4 linked regions of the Homo sapiens genome follow. The protein of the gene in region 2 purifies or fractionates together with the protein of the main gene of each other region. This does not show direct contact. Each region holds a gene or a part of one and is shown on either strand. Other genes may lie near its edges.

Region 1 (4,134 bases), on a different chromosome or scaffold from region 2:
GGTGGTACCAATCACCTATACAGGTCATCAACTAACGTTCATCATCATACTGCTTGTAAACTGTGCTGTACTTGAGTGGTTAGCCTTTTTCTGCTTGATGCTGAAAGTGACCAACTGTTTACCCGGTATGTCTCAAACTATAGATTCCTGGCTTTCATATGGTTCAGACAGCTCCACACTTCCACCATAACATATCATTATTTCTTCTAGCCACTAAAACTTAACACTTGGATAGCAGAATTTTATACTGAAGAAATATACATATTGAATATACAAATTACAAATAGTCACTCTACATACTCTGGCAGTCAACACTGCCAAAGAAACCAGAAACAAAGAAACCTCTTCCTTCTGAAGAGGAAAAAGGATATGAGAAGTATGGCTTAATGGCATAGTTTTGGAAAAGTTACAAATTCCAGCAGGGAGAGCAATGAATATTACATGGTACCTGTTAGTGCAATGTTAATCAATAGATGCTTTAGTTCACAAATTCTGCACTTATTTAGCATACACAATGCATTCTACAAATGATTTTCAAAAAAATCTGAATTTGTTAAATATGAAAAAATTGGCAATCAAATCATCACTCCAGAAAAGCAGATGTTCAAGGACAAAATGAGAAACAAAGGGAACTACTGCTGTAATACATACAATAATATTCAGATGATGTTTCTTTTAGCATTTACTTTGTACTGTTCTTTTAGCACACTTTTTTCATTCTTTCTTATTTTGTTTAAATTATTTGCAAGTCTACTCTACCAGTTTGTAATTTCCTTGAAGTAACAGGTGTCTTCTTAGTCATTTGTTTGCCACGGTATATTTATATTAAAAAAAAGTTTTTTTTTGAGACAGGGTCTCACTCTGCTACCCAGGCTGGAGTGCAGTGGCACAGGTCATAGCTCCCTGCAGCCTTGACCTCTTCCCAGGCTCAAAGGATCCTCCCACCTCAGCCTCCAAAGGAGTTGGGACTACAGACGTGCACCACCACACCCAGTTAGTTAAAAAAAAAATTGTGGAGATGGGGTCTTGCTCTGTTGCCCAGGCTGGTCTCAAAATCCTGGGCTCAAGCAATCCCTCCAACTCGGCCTTCCAAGGTGCTGGGATTACAGGTGTCAGCCACTATGCCTGTTTTTTGTTTGTTTCTTTTTTACTGGTAGAGCTATATTTAGACAAATTTCTAAAGGAAGACAAAACTGAGGTGTTTCCACATTCACTAAAATCTTAAAATAAGGGCATATAAAAGTTTTTTTCAACAAGCTCCTCTGTCTTAATTCGCATTGTGCTTGCTGGAAACTACAGCCATGTTTAGATCTCATCTATACTCTATTTCGGAAAAAGTCTAATTTTAATCATTAACTTCACATACTAATTAACGGCTGTAGTTAAGCTGTGAAACCTTACCTAAGCTAATAGGAAATTACCTTCACATGAGGACAACTTAAGTGATTCAGACACTCCACCGTTCTGACTATACTTTTGCTGTGTTGCCACCTAATTTTTATTACTACTCCCTTACTCACTACTCCAGCCAAACAGGCCTTTCTGCTGTTCACTGAAGACACCAAGCACATTCCAAGACAAAAGTCTTTCTGCATTGGTGGTCCCTCTGCCTGGAATGCTCTTTCCCCAGCTGTCAGCACAGCTAACTCCTTCACCTCCTTCCAATATTTGCTCAAATGTCATTTTCTCAGTGAAGCCTACCTAAGATTGCATCTTGCATTCCCCATGCCTCTTACCTCGCTGTATTTTTTTCCTATGGTACTCATGTACTTCCAACCTATAACTTCCTTCTTTTTGTTTACTGTTTATTATTTGTCTTCCCCAAACTAGAATGTAAGCTCCACAGGACAGAGATCTTTGTTTTGTTTACACATAGACCATTCCAAGAAGTTGGACATTGCCTGGTACACAGTAAGCACTCAGTATTACTGAATAAATGAGTGGATATCATACTTAGCACAAAAGGGATCTCTCTCTTCAGGTTCTGAATATGAGTCATTAATAGTGCACCTCAACTTCACTCCAGCACTTAAATGCATGACTTAAAAAAAAAAAAAAAAGCATGTGGCTTACAGCGTGTGTGGAAAAATTTTCCAGTATATGATCCTCTGAGCCTTTCATTAAACAGTCCTTTGAGCTTTGTGACATCATAATTCTGCTAAGTGGGTCGCTATTACCATTCTCATATTGCAAACTCAAGTAGGCAGTTATGTAGCCCCCGCCCAAATTAGTGAACCCAAAACAAAACCCACAAGATCTCATCAACAGTTTTTACCTCACAGCTGACACTTATAAAGGAGTTCCAAGTGCTTCCGCCAACTCCTCCTACCAGCAACTGTGAAAACAACGGCCAGTGAGTATCCAGGGCTGACTTTGGGCCGGGCACCCCATATCTCATTTCATCTAGTGAAGTAAGTCCCAAACCCCACTCCAGAGGCCCGGTCCCTGACCTGGAGGAAACTCAGTCCCAGCCCCTGGCTCACCCGCTGGGAAGTCGAAGGAGGGCCCGGAATCGTACCCAGGCCTGGATTACCTTCGCCCACGCCCACTGGGGCCCCAGTGTCTGGAGAGGCTGCACTTTACTCTCTCGAGGAAGCCATTCTGCACTTCCGCTCTCGGGGCTGCTTCCCGGGATGGTCCCTCCCTTTGGGTCCGCGGCGCCTCCAGCCACAAGGCAGGGAGATGGTGCGCCGGACTGGGGGGAAGGCTGTCCGGACCCGCCCTCGCGGCACCGGGAAGCCAGTCCCACCTCCGGGCCCCGCAGCCGCGAATGCCGGCAGACAGGGACCAGGAGGCACTCAAGTCCCACTGCGCACGCGCCCTGTAGGCCGGGCCGGAGTCACGTGCGCCAACGTTACGCACGCCGGCGACTCTCGCCTCGCCTAGGCCTCAGCTCCCTAGGTTTTGCTTCGCGGAGTACAGAAGCTGGGAGGCGCCAGCCTCCCGCCCCCGGCCACTATGGCAACGGAAGCGGCGCGCGCAGGCGGAGCATTCTTTGGCTCCGTCCCGAAGAGGGGTGAAAGGGAGAGGGACAGGGAGGCGAAGGGGAGGGGGAGGGGGAGGGAGGGAAGGGACGGGGCAAACCTGTCTGTCAGGACGTGCTGGTTCCGCTCACTGGCTGCTGGCCCCAAGGGCTTTCAGACTCTTCTGGACAGTTGTTACTTCCTGTACAGACTGGGTTGAAACTGCAGCTCAAAAGACGATAGGTTAAAAGCCAAACTAGGGAACTGCAAGATAAGATTGTTTATATATACATGACATAATATATATTAATTATGTTGCTTAATAAGCCAATAAGAAAAAGGCCAACAACCCCAGAAGGAAAATGAGCAAATATTAGAACAGGCCTCCCAAAAAACAAAAAAGTCAAACAAATAGCCACTAAGGATATACAAAACTGTTTAAACTATTATTAGACAAGAATGGAAATGAAAACAGCAAGTTTTCTTTTTACTCGGTTTAGCAAAGATGTAAAACCTTGGTAATGACCACTGTTGGTGTGACTATGGGGAAACAGGTTTACATCTGTGGATGGAAGAAAAACGTTATTAGAAACCTTACGGAAGGCAAACTTATTTATTTGTTTGTTTACTGAAACAAGGTCTTACCCTCACCCAGGCTGGTGTGCAGTGGCTCGATCTCGGCTCACTGCAGCCTCAACTTCCCCGGGCTCACGCGATCCTCCTAGAGAGATGGCATCTCCCTATCTTAGGCTGGTCTGGAACTCCTGGACTCAAGCGATCCGTTGGTCTCGGCCACCCAAAGTGCTGGGATTACAGGCATGAGCCAAGCCGCCTAGCCCAGAAGGCAAACGTTGAAAAGAGACATGCACTTTGGCTGGGCGCAGTGGCTCACGCCTGTAATCCCAGCATTTTGAGAGGCCGAGGCGAGCGGATCACGAGGTCAAGAGTCCGAGACCAGCCTGACCAACATAGTGAAACCCCGTCTCTACTAATAATGCAAAAAATTAGCCAGGCGTGGTGGCGGGCGCCTGTAATCCTAGCTACTTGGGAGGCTGAGGCAGGAGAATCGCTTGAACCCGGGAGGCGGAGGTTGGAGCGAGCCGAGATCTCACCACTGCACACCAGCCCGGGCGACAGTGCGAGACTCCGTCTCGGGAAAAAAAGAGGACAT
Region 2 (3,500 bases):
AGAAAAAGACAATAAGGGTCACTGATTCAAGAAGTACCTTCTTGGAGAGCATCAGTGTCCCCACAGAGAGCCGCCAAGAGTCACCAACCAAAAATAAGGGAAAAAGAAAGAGATGGATGGAAAGCCCCAAGCTGCAGGGCTCTTCCCATGCAGAACCAGAACACAAAGGAAACGTGTGGACACCACAAAAAGCAACCAACACCGCAGATGCGGGCAGGCGCCGGGAGGAGGAGGGACAGGGGTCCCGAGTGGGAGTCAGCGCAGATGTGGACAGGCGCCGGGAGGAGGAGGAACAGGGTCCCGAGTAGGAGTCAGTCTTCCAGGGATGATCAGGGATTGCACACCGTTGTCGTGCTGCAAGCGCTCTCCCCAGCCCCCACTCCTGGACAGGTTGTTTTGAAGATGTTGAAATAACTTTTAAGGCAAAGAGAATGATCTACGGGTTTCAAAGTAAACGGCATCAGATATTTCAACATTCTCCAGGAAGCAGACTCTCCTGGTAAATCCTGTCTCTAGTTACACCTCACAGAATCAGCCCTGCTCCCGGGCAACATCAAAGTCAGCTTCCCCTGGGAACCCAGTGAGTGTGTGCTCCCATCTTCTCCTTAACGAATAGCCATTCCATAGGCTTCAAATACAGCCTGCCACTGTCTAAATTGTTGTATACATTCACATACACACACACACTCACACACACACAGCAGCTTCTGTCAGCTTGCGGGGTATCCGTTTTGTAAGCAATGCAAATGAAAGCTGTGATCCAATTTGGGTGACCCTCCTCCTCCCCCACTTAGAATCAAAGCAGAGCGTACTGGGGCCAGGGGCTGGGGGATGACGACACAGCCTTAGGAAGACCTGCCTCTAAAAAGAGTCAAGTCTTGTCTGTACCAGCAGAACTTAAAACTAAAAGGCAACAGCAACGGCTCCCAGCAGCACTTTAAAAAGTTAAAATTGGCTGGGTAGAGTGGCTTACGCCTGTAATCCCAGCACTTTGGGAGGCTGAGGTGGGCGGATCACTTGAGGTCAGGAGTTTGAAACCAGCCTGGCCAACATGGCAAAACCCCATCTTTACTAAGAATACAAAAATTAGCCAGGCATGCTGGCATGTGACTGTAATCCCAGCTACCAGTTAACTCAGGAGGCTGAGGCAGGAGAACTGCTTGAACCTGGGAAGCGGAGGTTGCAGTGAGCTGAGATTGAGCCATTGCATTCCAGCCTGGGTGACAGACTCAGTCTCAAAAAAATAAAATAAAAAATAAAAAGTTAAAATTAATGTTCTCATTAAAAATTTTGAGAATACACTAAAACCAGGGGATAGCAGGGAGAAGCCAGTTGGACCTGCAGGGCTGGGCCTGCTAACCCTCTGAACATGGGTATTTAGCAGAAGTTGCTTTAAATGCAGTCTTAGGAAGGGTAGGAAAAAGGATGGCAGGGAGAGGATGGCGTTGCTAGGCAACGTGGACAAACGATATATAAAGCACCGGCAAGCTGCTCAGATGTAAGCGCCCCTCAATGTGTGGGCTCGTGGGGCGATGGCTGCGGTCTCCTCGCTGGCGGGAGATGGCCATACCGGGATGCCCTTGGTTTCCAGGATGAGGCTGGGCACGTGTCGCGCAGACAAGCCCATGCGGATGGCGTCACGGATCCTCTTAACCAAGTCAGGCTGGAAGGCGTGCCCGGAGGCCATCTTCAGGAAGAGGATCACCCTCTCCTCCCTGTACTTGTTATACTGGGGGACACACAGGCTGTCCTCCACCTCCTCGAAGGATTCCACTGTGGAGACAGGAGAGGGTGCACATTCACGCAGGGGGCCCCTCAGTGTGGGGTCGGGCCTCACAGCAACCTGGCAGAGCAGGAGGGGCAGGCTGGGTCCCCCAAGCCTTCCAGCGGTGCCTGTGTTCTCCCAGTCCACCCAGGAGAAGGGCCTTGGAGGGACATTTGCTGAGGAGGCCGTTTCACAAGCGGAAGAAAACCCATCACTGGGGAGGCAGAGAGAGCTTCAGGTTTGGCAGGATGGGTGATGTTCTACCAGGAAGCCAGGTGTGGGCCTTACTTAATGAGAAATTAATTCAAGATAAAAAAGAGGGCCGGGCATGGTGGCTCACGCCTATAATCCCAGCACTCTGGGAGGCTGAGGTGAGAGGATCACTTAAGTCCAGGAGATTGAGACCAGCCTGGACAACATAGGGAGACTTTGTCTCTACGAAAAATCAAAACCTAAGTTAGGCATGGTGACACACACCTGGAGACACAGCTACTCGGGAAGCTGAGGCAGGAGGATCGCCTGAGCCCAGGAGGTCGAGGCTACAGTGAGTTATGATGGCGCCACTGCCCCCCAGCCTGGCCAACAGAGTGAGACCCTGTCGGCCTCCCAAAAAAGGAGGCAGGTGGCCGGGCACAGTGGCTCACACCTGTAATTCCAGCACTTTGGGAGGCCGAAGTGGGTTGATTACTTGAGCTCAGGAGTTTGAGACCAGCCTGGCCAACATGGCAAAACCTCATCTCTACAAAAAATACAAAAATTAGCTGGGCATGGTGGTGCACGCCTGTAGACCCAGCTACTCAGGAGGCTGAGGTGAGAGGATTGCTTGAGCCCAGGAGGCGGAGGTTGCAGTGAGCTGAGATCACACTATTGCACTCCAGCCTGTGAAGAGAGTAAGACCCTGTCTCAAAAAAAAATTTTTTTAAAAAAGAAAGCAGGTGCCTGTGGTGGGGACTCCACTGGAGTGAGGAAAAAAGGCTGGAATCAGACATCGGGATTTCTCTACCCTGGCCACACAAACGACCTTGACATAAGTTTAGGACTCTGACCTAAGCACTAGCATAAGAGGCCATCTGACCAACTCTGCGGCCTGGGCTGGGTCTGGGTCCCTGGGCTGGGAAGTTTGAAGGCCCACAGGTGACTCCACTGTACAGTTGTGAGATCCACAGGCCTACACTCTCTGTGCTTGGTGTCCTGCATGATGCTGTGTGACCTTCAGCAATCCTGAACCCTCTCTGTGCTTCTGGTTTCTTCAACCATAAAGAGTAGACACAAGTTGGCCGGGCGTGGTGGCTCATGCCTGTAATCCCAGCACTTTGGGAGGCCGAGGCAGGCGGATCACTTGAGGTCAGGAGTTCGAGACCAGCCTGGCCAACACGGTGAAACCCCATCTCTACTAAAAATACAAAAACTAGCTGGGCATGGTGGTGCATGTCTATCATCCCAGCTACTGAGGAGGCAGAGGTTGCAGTGAGCCAAGATCGCGCTCCAGCCTGGGTGACACAGCGAGACTCTGTCTCCAAAAAAAAAAAAAAGAGTAGATAGACACAAGTAACCAGCCCAGCAGAGCTCACCGGGAGGATGAGCTATAATGAGGAAGAGGATGGGCAAAGGGACCTTAAAGACCCCATTTGAGGTTTTATGAGGATGGCAGTGTGGGCAAGGTATGTTCTGGAAAGGAGGTCAGGCTCACAAATGTCCACTGTCACACCAGAGAACAAGGGGCCAGAGTTGTGCC
Region 3 (3,500 bases), on a different chromosome or scaffold from region 2:
CACAGGGGCCCTGTGTGCCCGCATGGGGGGTGGGGTCGGGGAAGCACGCCTGTGAAGCCAGCCCTGTCTGTGCCTCTCCTGCTGTCTGTCTGGCCTGAGGGTGGCCCCAGCCCGTTGTCCCATGACCCAATACTTTCCATTTCAAACGGACATGTTACCCTTGACAGTGAGCTCCTGGAGGGCAGGCCTGGGCTGTGGTTGGGCGTGCAGTCCAGGTGGATCCTCAGCTGTATGTGTTCCCAGGCTCTGCAGAGGGACCTGGAGCTGCAGGCGGCCTCCAGCCGGGAACTCATCCGGAAGTACTTCTGCAGCCGAATCCAGCAGCAGGTGAGGCCCCTCCCTCGCACTGCGCCCTCTGCAGGCCCTGGAGCACCCCGCTCCCGCTGTGACCCTGCTGACCCTGCCCCTGCTCCCCACCCCAGGCAGAAACCACCTCTGAGGAGCTGGGGGCTGTGACAGTCAAGGCCTCCTACCGCGCCTCTGAGCAGAAGCTGCGTGTGGAGCTGCTCAGCGCCTCCAGCCTGCTGCCCCTGGACTCCAATGGTGAGTGGAGGCTGCCTTTGGCCACTCTCCATGGTCCCGTCCTGGCCCTCCTGTCTCAGCGACCCTGGGGGCTTCGCTCACCCTGCAGGAGCTCTGGGTGCATTTCCTCCAGTTACCAGGAGGGGTCAGTGCCGCTGAGCAGAGCATAGCTGCTGGGGTGGGGTGCCTGGGAGACCCTCAGCTGACGCACACTCCCCGGCCACTTACCAGGCTCCAGCGACCCCTTTGTCCAGCTGACCTTGGAGCCCAGGCATGAGTTCCCTGAGCTGGCCGCCCGGGAGACCCAGAAGCACAAGAAGGACCTTCACCCATTGTTTGATGAGACCTTTGAATTGTGAGTGGGTCCCGTTCTTCTCCCAGTCCCTCCCCTCATCTCTCCCCACTGGGCTCCCTCAGGCCTGCTCCTCCTGGCTGGGGCCAAGGGGCTCCCCTGAGATGGCCACATTTGGGCCCAAGGGATGGGGCATCTGGGACAAGAGTTTGCAGCTGGATGTGGTGGCTCACACCTGTCATCACAGCACTTTGGGAGGCCGAGGCAGGCGGATCACTTGAGGTCAGGAGTTCAAGACCAGCCTGGCCAACAGTCTCTACTAAAAATACAAAATTAGCCGGGCATGATGGTGGGTACCTGTACTCTCAGCTACTCGGGAGGCTGAGGCAGGAGAATTGCTTAACCCAGGAGGCAGAGGCTGCTGAGATGGTGCCACTGCACTCCAGCCTGGGCGACAGAGTGAGACTCCATCTCAAAAAAAAAAAAAAAAAAAAAGAGGGCCAGGCGTGGTGGCTCATGCCTGTAATCTCAGCACTTTGGGAGGCCAAGGCGGGCGGATCACGAGGTCAGGAGATCAAGACCATCCTGGCTAACATGGTGAAACCCCGTCTCTACTAAAAACAAAAAATTAGCTGGGTGTGGTGGGACACGCCTGCAGTCCCAGCTACTCGGGAGGCTGAGGCAGGAGAACCACTTGAACCCGGGAGGCGGAGGTTGTAGTGAGCCAAGATGGCGCCACTGCACTCCAGCCTAGGTGACAGAGCAAGACTCCGTCTCAGAAAAAAAAGTTTGCTTCCCTTGGGGGAAGGGGTGGACTCCCAGGTGTTTAACTTAGGGACTTCCAGGGAAGGGTCCTGTCTCTGAGGTTCTCAGTAACCTGCTCCTAGTTCCTCAGCACAGGTGAACAGGGAACACAGGACCGCTGGTTTAAAGCATCAGCCCACGGTCAGAGCAGGCATTGCACCACATGGCTGAGAGGTGCCAGGCTGAGAGCTGGCTTTGCAGTCCAAACCCTGGCTGGTTCCCAACACCAAGTGGGTGAACCCATGTGCCGAGGCTGGGGTGGCTGTGCTGGGGCTGGCAGCAGAGCCCTGACTCTCCCCGCAGCCTGGTGCCTGCTGAGCCGTGCCGCAAGGCTGGGGCATGCCTCCTGCTCACCGTGCTGGACTACGACACGCTGGGGGCCGACGACCTGGAAGGCGAGGCCTTCCTGCCGCTGCGTGAGGTGCCCGGGCTGAGTGGCTCTGAGGAGCCTGGTGAGGTGCCTCAGACCCGCCTGCCCCTCACGTACCCCGCACCCAACGGTAGGCCTGAGCCCAGGGCAGGGTGGTGCGGGGACGGGAGCCTGTAAAGCTCAGGCAGGGGCCCCAGAGAGGTGATGCCAGGGTCGGAGAACAGCTTCCCTGGAGACGGGAGCCAGTGGGACAGCCACGGCCCATCTCTCGGTCTAATCAAGAGACCAGTGAACTTTAAGCTAAGTGTAACGTGACTCTCCTTGCATGGGGAAGTCACCAAGAAGTTTAACTGGGGAGAAGGGCCTGGATCTCACTCGGCGGGGCCGCTTCCCTGCAGAGCATTTTTGATACCAGCAACGGTCTGATGCTTGTGCACTTATTATGAGCAAGTGCTAAGCACTTTATGCATTCCAGCCAACGAAGCAGATATTAGCACTCTTTTACAGATGAGTAAACCGAGGCATGAAAAGGTTAACTTGCTAGCTTTAGGTTCTCGTATAAAAAGGTAATAGTCAAACCTCAGGCACATCTCAGCCCCTCGCTGCAGTCAGGACAGTGTCCCAGCAGCACTCTGTCTGTTACGCGACCCGACCGGATGCGTCTGTCAGACCACCTCCTGGGCTGGGCTGGCGCGGGTCTGTCACTTGTTTCCTTCCAGGTTGTTGGGGAGATGGAGCAGTGTTGTGTACCCCCCCACACACTCTTCTCTGCCACCACCAGGCACTGCCCTCTCCCCTGGCATCTGACCCCCAAACCCCTCTCTCCGCAGGGGACCCAATCCTGCAGCTGCTGGAGGGCCGGAAGGGTGACCGAGAAGCCCAGGTCTTTGTGAGGCTGCGGCGGCACCGGGCCAAGCAGGCCTCCCAGCATGCCTTGCGGCCGGCACCGTAGCCGTAGAGGTTTGCGGTGGGGCTGGGTCCCCGGTGGGGACTTGCAAGGGCTTTCCTGTAGGGTCTGGGGCTTCCCCGCCACATCGCGGCCCTCCAGCCTGGCCTAACACTTGGGGAGCCCCAGCATGCGGAGTGCCCAGAGTGCAGACCTCCCCTGCCTCCCATGGTGATGGGGGCTCAGCAGCGACATCTCTACTCCCGCCTCCCTGCCTCCAGCCCTGGCTGCAATGTCTCTACCACATCCCAGCACCAGGGGGAGCAAACCCTGCCCCTGCCCGCCTCTCAGAAAAGCTGCTGTGGTGGGCAGGGGATTGGGCCATCTGTCTCCTGGCCCTGGCCCATCTGCCTCCTGGCCTTCCTGTTCCAGCCACTGGGGTGGGGGCCAGGTTCACTGGGACCAGGGCTACAGGCACAGAGTCTCCTGGAAAAGGGAGAGGGGACCCTGCCAAAGATGAGGCTCCAGCTGCCCTGGGGGGAGGGTGGTGGCCATTACTAGAGGGGGCCTGGGTCCTCTCCCCAGGGGCTGCCAGCATCCAGGCCAGGAAGCCTGGAGCCAAGAAC
Region 4 (3,500 bases), on a different chromosome or scaffold from region 2:
AGAGGACCCTGCGGCCTTCCGCAGTGTTTGTCCCTGATTACTTGAGATTAGGGAGTGGTGATGACTCTTAACGAGCATGCTGCCTTCAAGCATCTGTTTAGCAAAGCACATCTTGCACCACCCTTAATCCATTTAACCCTGAGTGGACACAGCACACGTTTCAGAGAGCACAGGGTTGGGGGTAAGGTCACAGACCAACAAGATCCCAAGGCAGAAGAATTTTTCTTAGTGCAGAACAAAATGAAAAGTCTCCCATGTCTACTTCTTTCTACACAGACACGGCAACCATCCGATTTCTCAATCTTCTCCCCACCTTTCCCGCCTTTCTATTCCACAAAGCCGCCATTGTCATCCTGGCCCATTCTCAATGAACTGTTGGGCACACCTCCCAGACGGGGTGGTGGCCAGGCAGAGGGGCTCCTCACTTCCCAGTAGGGGCGGCCGGGCAGAGGCGCCCCTCACCTCCCGGACGGGGCGGCTGGCCGGGCAGGGGGCTGACCCCTCCACCTCCCTCCCAGACGGGGCAGCTGGCCAGGCTGGGGGCTGACCCCCCCACCTCCCTCCCGGACGGGGCGGCTGGCCGGGTGGGGGGCTGACCCCCCCACCTCCCTCCCGGACGGGGCGGCTGGCCGGGCAGAGGGGCTCCTCACTTCCCAGTAGGGGCGGCCGGGCAGAGGCGCCCCTCACCTCCCAGACGGGGCGGCTGGCCAGGTGGGGGGGCTGACCCCCCCCCCCGGACGGGGTGGCTGGCCGGGCGGGGGGCTGACCCCCCCCACCTCCCTCCCGGACGGGGCGGCTGGCCGGGCAGAGGGGCTCCTCACTTCCCAGTAGGGGCGGCCGGGCAGAGGCGCCCCTCACCTCCCAGACGGGGCAGCTGGCCGGGCAGGGGGCTGACCCCCCCACCTCCCTCCCGGACGGGGCGGCTGGCCGGGCAGAGGGGCTCCTCACTTCCCAGTAGGGGCGGCCGGGCAGAGGCGCCCCTCACCTCCCAGACGGGGCGGCTGGCCAGGTGGGGGGGCTGACCCCCCCCCCCGGACGGGGTGGCTGGCCGGGCGGGGGGCTGACCCCCCCCACCTCCCTCCCGGACGGGGCGGCTGGCCGGGCAGAGGGGCTCCTCACTTCCCAGTAGGGGCGGCCGGGCAGAGGCGCCCCTCACCTCCCAGACGGGGCAGCTGGCCGGGCAGGGGGCTGACCCCCCCACCTCCCTCCCGGACGGGGCGGCTGGCCGGGCGGGGGGCTGACCCCCCCACCTCCCTCCCGGACGGGGCGGCTGGCCGGGCGGGGGGGCTGACCCCCCCCACCTCCCTCCCCGACGGGGCGGCTGGCCGGGCGGGGGGCTGACCCCCCCACCTCCCTCCCCGACGGGGCGGCTGGCCGGGCGGAGACGCTCCTCACTTCCCAGATGGGGGGGCTGCCGGGCGGAGACGCTCCTCACTTCCCAGATGGGGTGGCTGCCGGGTGGAGAGGCTCCTCACTTCTCAGACGGGGCAGCTGCCGGGCGGAGGGGCTTCCTCACTTCTCAGACGGGGTGGTTGCCAGGCAGAGGGTCTCCTCACTTCTCAGACGGGGCGGCCGGACAGAGACGCTCCTCACCTCCCAGACGGGGTTGCGGCCGGGCAGAGGCGCTCCTCACATCCCAGATGGGGAGGCGGGGCAGAGGCGCTCCCCACATCTCAGACGATGGGCGGCCGGGCAGAGACGCTCCTCACTTCCTAGATGTGATGGCAGCCGGGAAGAGGCGCCGCTCCTCACTTCCTAGATGGGATGGCGGCCAGGCGGAGACGCTCCTCACTTTCCAGACTAGGCAGCCAGGCAGAGGGGCTCCTCACATCCCAGACGATGCGCGGCCAGGCAGAGACACTCCTCACTTCCCAGATGGGGTGGCGGCCGGGCAGAGGCTGCAATCTCGGCACTTTGGGAGGCCAAGGCAGACGGCTGGGAGGTGGAGGTTGCAGCGAGCCGAGATCACGCCACTGCACTCCAGCCTGGGCACCATTGAGCACTGAGTGAACCAGACTCCGTCTGCAATCCCGGCACCTCGGGAGGCCGAGGCTGGCGGATCACTCGCGGTTAGGGGCTGGAGACCTGCCCGGCCAACACAGCGAAACCCCGTCTCCACCAAAACCAGTCAGGCGTGGCGGCGCGTGCCTGCAATCGCAGGCACTCGGCAGGCTGAGGCAGGAGAATCAGGCAGGGAGGTTGCAGTGAGCCGAGATGGCGGCAGTACAGTCCAGCTTCGGCTCCGCATGAGAGGGAGACCGTGGAAAGAGAGGGAGACCGTGGAAAGAGAGGGACACCGTGGGGAGAGGGAGAGGAAGAGCAATACAACTATTCTTAACCCTTGATTTAAATCTTTTGGGGAAGGGGATGTATGAATGTTCTTCACCTCAGACCTGTTTGCTAAAGGTGAATAGACATTCCTGAATAAAACAGAGCTTTCTACTCATCACGGCTCTTCTCAGCCCTCTCCACTATGGAAAATAAGCCATAAAGTCATCCAGGAGAGAAACCTACAAACAACTCTTCACTTAGCAAGAACAGACACCGGGCCACAGATAATTGCTCTTATTTTACAATACATTTAAACAAATATGATTAAAATACTTGCATTATAGCTAAAATGCTATAGAAAATTACTGTTATTCTCTGAAAAATAAATTAAATGAAATTGACAACAACGGTATTCAACCTCCTAAAAATCCTTGTCTTTGAAGATCCAGATTATAAAGATCACATGCTTAACACATTTGGGGCCAAGATGATGTCTGCTTAGAAAGCTCTTCATGACTCCATGTTTACACTGGAAAAAAGAAGTCAAGGATTTCACTGCATCCACACTAACACTTAGCTCCTAGTGCTACTCATGAAATTTAAGGTAAACATACAAAAGTTCCTAAAAAAGACTGAGTAGCCACGCAGTATACTGACAGCGTGACTTGTCCAAAATAGTTATATACAAGTTGTTTGTCCATAAACCAGCAGAACTTTAATACAATATATTTCCTTTAGAGAATATGTGCCATCAAGGTGAAAATAGGATCAAACTGAAAAGATAGTTCAGCTTAAGTTGATTGCAAACTGCGACCATGTCTTACCTTTTCAGGTCAACAGTCGTCACACTAAATACAACTCCTTTGAGCCAAAGAATCATGAAGAGCCTCTGGGAAAAGGGGCAGTTTCCTATGCTTTCACCATCACTGCCAGCCTGGAAAACAGAATTAAACATTAAAAACAAGGTCAAAGTGATGATACTCAACATGACATAACTTTTTCTGAATTTTAATCAAGAGTACAAGAAGCCAGGAAAAGTTACATTGTGGAAGGAAGAGTAGAAATTTGGGTCTTTATTATTTTGTTCTTTCATTAGCCTTTTTTTTTTTTTTTCTTTTTTTGAGACAGGGTCTCCTTCTGTCACCCAGGCTGGAGTGCAGTGGTGCGATCTCAGCTCACTGCAACCTTCACCTCCCATCTTAGCCTCCCAAGCAGCTGGAGCTACAGGC

Evidence for each region. Proteins that work in one complex are often made in the same cells at the same time.
Region 1: the proteins of AACS (region 2) and CMTR2 fractionate together in Homo sapiens (co-fractionation; one large-scale study listed by BioGRID). This does not show direct contact.
Region 3: the proteins of AACS (region 2) and UNC13D fractionate together in Homo sapiens (co-fractionation; one large-scale study listed by BioGRID). This does not show direct contact.
Region 4: the proteins of AACS (region 2) and CLIC4 fractionate together in Homo sapiens (co-fractionation; one large-scale study listed by BioGRID). This does not show direct contact.

The regions. Positions count from the first base shown.
Region 1 is NC_000016.10:71,286,603-71,290,736, forward strand, and holds the start of CMTR2 (cap-specific mRNA (nucleoside-2'-O-)-methyltransferase 2), read right to left. Parts: upstream 2,801-4,134; 5' UTR 2,534-2,800; exon of another isoform or gene 2,336-2,533; 5' UTR 2,276-2,335; exon of another isoform or gene 1,954-2,275; intron 1-1,953.
Region 2 is NC_000012.12:125,134,935-125,138,434, reverse strand, and holds part of AACS (acetoacetyl-CoA synthetase), read right to left. Parts: intron 1,774-3,500; coding exon 1,571-1,773; coding exon of another isoform or gene 1,493-1,570; exon of another isoform or gene 1-1,492.
Region 3 is NC_000017.11:75,827,405-75,830,904, reverse strand, and holds part of UNC13D (protein unc-13 homolog D), read left to right. Parts: intron 1-243; coding exon 244-327; intron 328-422; coding exon 423-543; intron 544-753; coding exon 754-877; intron 878-1,921; coding exon 1,922-2,118; intron 2,119-2,818; coding exon 2,819-2,940; 3' UTR 2,941-3,500. UniProt on the Homo sapiens protein: Plays a role in cytotoxic granule exocytosis in lymphocytes. Required for both granule maturation and granule docking and priming at the immunologic synapse.
Region 4 is NC_000001.11:24,797,447-24,800,946, reverse strand, and holds part of CLIC4 (chloride intracellular channel protein 4), read right to left. Parts: intron 3,206-3,500; coding exon 3,096-3,205; intron 1-3,095. UniProt on the Homo sapiens protein: In the soluble state, catalyzes glutaredoxin-like thiol disulfide exchange reactions with reduced glutathione as electron donor. Can insert into membranes and form voltage-dependent multi-ion conductive channels.